2 separate regions of the Homo sapiens genome follow, and region 1 is linked to region 2. The links come from fine-mapping of genetic effects on gene expression. A gene starts in region 2. The other region holds a variant in brackets. All regions are shown on one strand. Distances are from middle to middle.

Region 1 (2,901 bases), 4.1 kb before region 2:
CAGCAAGGGCAGAGTGATGTTTTTCATGACTAATCTTCAAACCCCGGACGAGAGGAAACACATTCCAAAGCGACTGCTTGAGACAAGAACAGGGTGGGACGCAAAAAGTTAACTGAGAATCAGGAGATAGGAGAAGACTCAGCCACACCCAGCCAGTGAAGATGAATTTAAAGAGAACTCTATGTAGTGCGGCTCCCTGGGTGGAACAGAACATATGATTCTCGTGCCAGAGTGTGGGTTCACCCCTCTCGCCTAAACCTTCCGTTGTGAGGTGTGCCCTTCAGACAGTTATGCTTGGGTGGGCCCCGAGCAACCCCGCCACCCTCCACTCTCACCGCCCCCGCACGCTTGCAGAAAGCCAGCCTTTCTGGAATGGTGACTCGTCGGGGTGTACGATGTCTTCGTGGGGTGGGCAGAAGGGATGGTATTCCCTGTTTGCAGCCCCTGGGGTGGCAGGCGTATGTTGGGCCTAGCTGGCTCCTATTTCTGAGTCTTGACACCTCCCCCGCTGCCTGCCTCCTCCTCCTCCTCCCTCTCCCCTGGGCCGCCGAGCTGTTTGGCCCGCGGTGCCCCGCTCAAAGTCAGGGCCAAGGCCAGGGGAGGGGGCAGGCGGTGGTTCCCAGCACTGCCCTCACCTGATATTTACTTTCCAGGCTGTTGACTCCCAAACAATACAGTGCACGCCGATTTGCAGGGTACCTTCCGTCTACTTTCCCAGTAAACCACTCCCACCAAGCAAACACGCAGGGTTCCCCTGGCCCGCGCGGACCTGGAAAAACACAGCGCTTGGCTGGTCTCCCTGGCTGGCCGGACCCGCCGCCTTCCGGCCAGCGCACCTCCGCTGCGTGGAAGCGGCCGTGCCATGGCGCCTTGCGGCCACGAGAGGGCAGCCGCGGGCCGCAGAAACACCACCGCGCCCGGCTTCCCGAGCCTGCGCCTGCGCAGACCCGAGGCCGACCCGAGGCGGTCGCTGGCCAAGCGCCCGGCCAGCGCTTCCGGCTGCCGAGGCTGCAGCCTTCAGTGAGCTGTGGCTCTGCCGCCCCGGGAGGGAACAAATGGCGGATTTCAGGCCTCCGGGCCATGCAGCCTCCCTCTGAGGCCCCAAAGGCGCGATAGAGGCGGTGAGATGCGGCTGGAGCTGGGAACGAATTCCCCGGCCGGCTGGGAGGCCGCCCAGCCCGGTGCGCTGACCGCACTCGCCTTGCTTTCACCCCTCGGGTCGCCTCTCGCACCTCGCAGCCGAAAGCCCCTCCGCTGGGTCACGTTTCTCCATCCCGCTGCAGCCTGAGCAAGGTCGCCTTCATCCTTTACAGACAGAAGTTCCTCTACCCGGAGGCCCGGAGCCTGGGAGAGGGCCACTGGGAACGTCGCATTTGCAGAGCCCCAGTAACCGGGCTGTGGACCGTCTTCTTACTGCTTGAAGTTTCAGGCTCAGAGCAGGAAACGATTCCAGAGCTCAGCCAGGCACCGATGAGAAGAAAAACAGAAGCAGCACATTGCCCAGGGCCATGGAGCTTGCCAGTGAAGAGCAAACCAGGCCACGTAGGGCCGCTGCTTGGGACCCTGTCCTGGCACCCCCAGCTCTTGGAGAAAGTCAGCGCTCCCAAGGCCTCCAGGCCCGCCAGCATCGTCTGGCCCTGACTGCTCTCCACCATACCCCACTCTCCACTGCAGCTCTTCCCCATGTCCCGGCTGTGCACATCCGGC[T/C]CCATGATCCCAGCCGCGCCCAGCTTCACTCTCTGCCCAGCAAACTCTTGCTTGTCTTCTAGGTGTTGGCTTAGAAAACATTCTCCCTGCAAAGTTTTCTAGGCGTTCCCCGCACCTCTCACACAACCCTATGCAACACTGTATTCCAGGGTAGCCCACACAGAACCTCACCTGCTTGTTCACTTATCTGACCCAGAATACGAAAGGCCCACACTAGGTCTTAATTAATATGTCCCCTACATCCCAGCTGCCCCATCCAAGTCCCCAATTTCTGGGCCCATGTACTTTTTACCGTGTTGCCCACTGGCCCTTTCACTATTGTAACTAAAATAAGCAGATTTATGGCCTAGAAGACTCTATGCTTCTACGTCAGAACAAGAGCCTGCTCTTTTCTAATTCCTGGGAGAATATTATGACAATTCTTGCTTCTGAAGCCTGGAGAATAATTTCCAACATGACAGTCTCCCTACTTCTGTGGTCCGGAGGGTACTTTCTAACTTGAGTTATTCTCATTATTCCACTCAAGAGAAGTAACTGCAAAACAGGTGTTAAACCATGCAGTAGGATTTACAGAGGTTGAGGGACTCCATGAGTCCACTTGAACCAGAGCAGCACGATTTTTATTTTTTAGGTAGGAATTTCTTTTGGGGGGAAAATAAGGAGCCAAGAATTCTATTAATGCTTTAAAAATGTTTTAAGTGGGAGGAGGGTGAAGGGACAAGCAACTCTACTTTCTGCTCAATATTGCTGTGAACTAAAATTTTTCTAAAAAATACAGTTGATTGATTTATTTAAAAAATGTTTTAGATGTCACTACACTAAAGGATTATAAAGTAGAGCAGCTGAAGAGCTGTGGACAATTGTTAACAACTAATCATTTCCAAAGGCTGTACCTACATTCCCAGTGAAGCACATATCATAACTTCTCAACCTAGGGAGCCTTTCCCTTCCCTTTTATGTGGAGTCTATTTATTGTCACCCATTGTTTCTTCTTCCCTGACACCAGGGAGTCTGATTTTTTATGGGTGTAGTTAGGAACTGAAAGTTTGTTTCTTTGTTTTTTTTGGTTTTTTTTTTCAGAATTTGTTACATTTATAGAAAAAGTTGCTATGTTACTTATTTGAAGAAGAGTTGAAGCTTTTATATTTCTCTTTTAAAAATGTTTTGTTTGAGGCCCTAGGGTTTTTGTTTTTT
Region 2 (2,901 bases):
GTCCAGGTGGGGGTGGTGTGCAAGGCTGACCCAGGGGTCCCCAGTCCCAGACCCTACCTCTTGCACTCTGACCCGCCTAGGGAAGCGTGGCTGAGGAGGTAGGGAGAAAGAAAGGTCATGCTTTCAGCCTGGACTTCAGGACGTGGCCTGAGGACAGGTCAGAAGAGAATGGTATCCGTCACCATCTTACAGTTTTAAAATTCTTTGTATGGCGTCAATGTTCTCACTTACCGAGAAAGTACAGTCTCTGGAGTTAGAGACAGGTTCAAGTCATAGGTCTCCACTTACCAGTGGTGTAACCCTGGCAAGTCACTTTCCTTGGGTGAGATCCCATTTCTCCATCAGCAGAATATGGCCTGTAAAATCGTTGGAAAGATAAAAATAACATACGTAAAGTACATGGAAAATAATAAGCACTCAAATGGTAGCTATAGTTATTTATAACCAAGAAAACAGGGGGAGTGGATTTCTCCAGGTTGGACAGCTGATAATTGGTGGAACCAAAATTCCAAACTACTCCCCAGAAGCTTCAGTTCCTTATCCCAAGGCCCCTCTGCTCCCCGGAAACTAAGTCTCATACTTCTGTAGCCAGGTGCGACCCTCCAAGGCAAATCTCTGCCCACCGACTCACAGAGAGGGAACCCCCACCAAGAACCCGCTGGAAGCCTGGCGCCACACAGCTGCACTATCTGGAACCTCGCGCGACTGCAGCCCTGGGGGGCGCGCCCGGAACCGAAATGGCTCAAGAGACTTGAGGACCGGCGCGTCTCCTTTCTCCGGCCCCAGTCCCCAACTCCCGCCACAGCGCAGAGGGGGCAGTGCGGTGGGAGGGGGGGAGTTGTGGGGCTGGGGCTCCGGCCTGGCCGGTGAAGCCCCAGGACCCGTCCGCTTGGGGTTAAGGCAAGGGGTGCGGCACGAGGAGCGCAGGGAGCCCCGAGTCCCAGGCGCAGACCCAGCTGCGGACCCGCCGTACAGCCCTGGTGTTGCAAGCGTGGACCGTGGGCGTAAGGCCCCGGCGGGAGGCACTCGGCCCGGCCGCGGCCGGGTCTGCAGGGTCCTGGCGCAGCGGATCCCGGCGCGCCCTGGCCCGCGGCCCGCAGGGTTCAGACGGGGCCGAGACAGCCAAGCCCGGTTCGCTCGCGCCAGGCGCTGGAGCCAAGGCTGACGGGCGGTTCTGAATCATGTTTGGAGGAGCGGCGCGGCCCCCAGGGCTCCGCTGAGACGCGCTGCAGGGCTGTCCGGGCCCTCCCTCGGCGACGCGGCCAGCAGCCCGCGCCGCGTCCTCAGCGGCGGCAAAAACTAGGAGTCCCGGGGCTCTGCCGGGCGCCGGCACTGGAGGGCAAGAGATGCTGGCTTCCCCCGGGGCTCATCACCCCGGGGTTCCACAGCACTTACGTGGGATGGGGACCCCGGAGTAGACCACGGACGGAAAGGAACGGTGGTTTCATTCTCTGCAAAAGAAATCCTCGCGCGCACACGGGTGCCCCGGGCCAGGCAGACCTCCAGCAGAGGCGCCCAGGTGGGGCGTGCAGAGCTTCTGAAAGTGGGCACCTACTTTAGGAGGCTGGCAAGCACAGAGAGCCCAGAATCACCTGTGCCGAGCCCTCAAGGGGGCCTTCTCACAGCCCTGATGTGCCCCCTTACTGCGATTAAGGCTGTTTGCGAGTCCTAAAGAGCTTGCGTTATGCAGGGCACTTTCAACCAACCATTCCTCTATGTACAGCAACCTGTGAAGCTGGCAGGACCAGTACCTTTATTCGTTTTACAAGTGAGAAAGCAAAGGGGTGGGAAAGCCCTAGGGTTCTGTGCCCGACTGCCTAGTCAGGCCCTGCCAACCAAAGATTGAAGTCCGTTCTTTCTCTCTCCTGCCAGGAGGCGAAGAAGTGTCCACCCTGTCTATTGAGAGGCCTCTACTTTAAGAATTAAGCCAGGCAGTCGCTGCTGTGTGGAGGGGTGTTGACAGCAAGTGACAAGGAAGCAAGTCTTTATCGCAGGAAAAATTACTTAAGTGGACTCCTTAGCAGCCTCCTTTCCATTTGGAATGAAGATTAGCACCCCTAGCCCTAGAGCTGTGATTCTCAAAGTGTGGTGCCCAGACTAGCAGCAGAAGCATCACCTGGGAACTAGTAAGAAATGCATCTTAACTGCCCCCTCCTAGGCCTCCTGGATCAGAAGCTTTGAGGTAGTGCCAGCCCAGCAATTTATTTTTTTTGCTTTTCATACATATATATATCTCCACAATGGATGAAAGAGAACAATCATCAAGGATGTAGGTACCAGACACAGGGCAGAAGGTAGCTAGAAAAGTATGCCTGAAGGAAGTTAAGGACCCTAGCCTCATTCCTACCTCGTTTCAATAGGTGGACCTAGCATAAATAGGTTACTTTTCCATTGTTCTAGCTTCCTCTGCCCCATCTACAAACATGGCACAGCTGGCTTGCCTTGCAAGGCCTCAGCTGAAGGACCCCATGTACACACAGGCCAGTACAGCAGTATTAGGATCTAGAAGAATCTCATCCCCATATATGGTCTCACTCCAAGTCTATGGCCGAGTACCTTCATTGTTGTGTGCAAGATGGTGTCATCCCTTGAAAATATGGCCGCTTCAGCATAAAATAGTTAAATCTTTATAATGGTCGATTATCTCATCCTACCCCCTTTTACATGCAGCTGAAAAACGGCAGGCTAGGGACATAGAACATTGTGGACTTTATACTGTTAGAATCGCTGCCCATCAAATGATCACTAGCTAATGGTCACTAAATTTACAAATTAAGGAAATTATCTATAGAATACTGCAAAGACACAGTAAAAAGACTGAAGTTTGCCCATTTCTGCTCAGGAAGTCCCTTCACTCCTAAGCTTCATATGTTGTCCTTTTGAGCCCAGCAATTTTTAAGG

Which allele goes with the higher level. Alleles are on the strand shown, and positions count from the first base shown. SD is a standard deviation of normalised expression in the study named.
For the expression in sun-exposed skin of the gene that starts at base 1,480 in region 2, T is the low allele of the variant in region 1 and C is the other (moderate effect, 0.73 SD a copy in GTEx).

Evidence for each region. PIP is the estimated chance that this variant, and not a neighbour inherited with it, causes the effect.
Region 1: its variant is fine-mapped to the expression of LINC02767 in sun-exposed skin (GTEx, PIP above 0.99). The same link has a PIP of 0.9 or more in esophagus muscle, unexposed skin and visceral fat.

Annotation. Positions count from the first base shown.
Region 1 is chr1:207,961,698-207,964,598 of GRCh38, reverse strand. All of the region lies in intron 2 of LINC02767 (long intergenic non-protein coding RNA 2767), which reads right to left. Among named protein-coding and RNA genes, the nearest start is that of LINC02767, 4.2 kb to the right of the region's middle. RefSeq lists enhancers at 1-428, 1,115-1,174, 1,235-1,334. The variant T/C (reference allele first, on the strand shown) is at 1,708.
Region 2 is chr1:207,957,570-207,960,470 of GRCh38, reverse strand. It overlaps LINC02767 (long intergenic non-protein coding RNA 2767), which reads right to left and starts at 1,480. Exons shown (of 3, transcript NR_167983.1): 1 at 1,396-1,480; 2 at 232-356. RefSeq lists enhancers at 1,008-1,507, 1,508-2,009.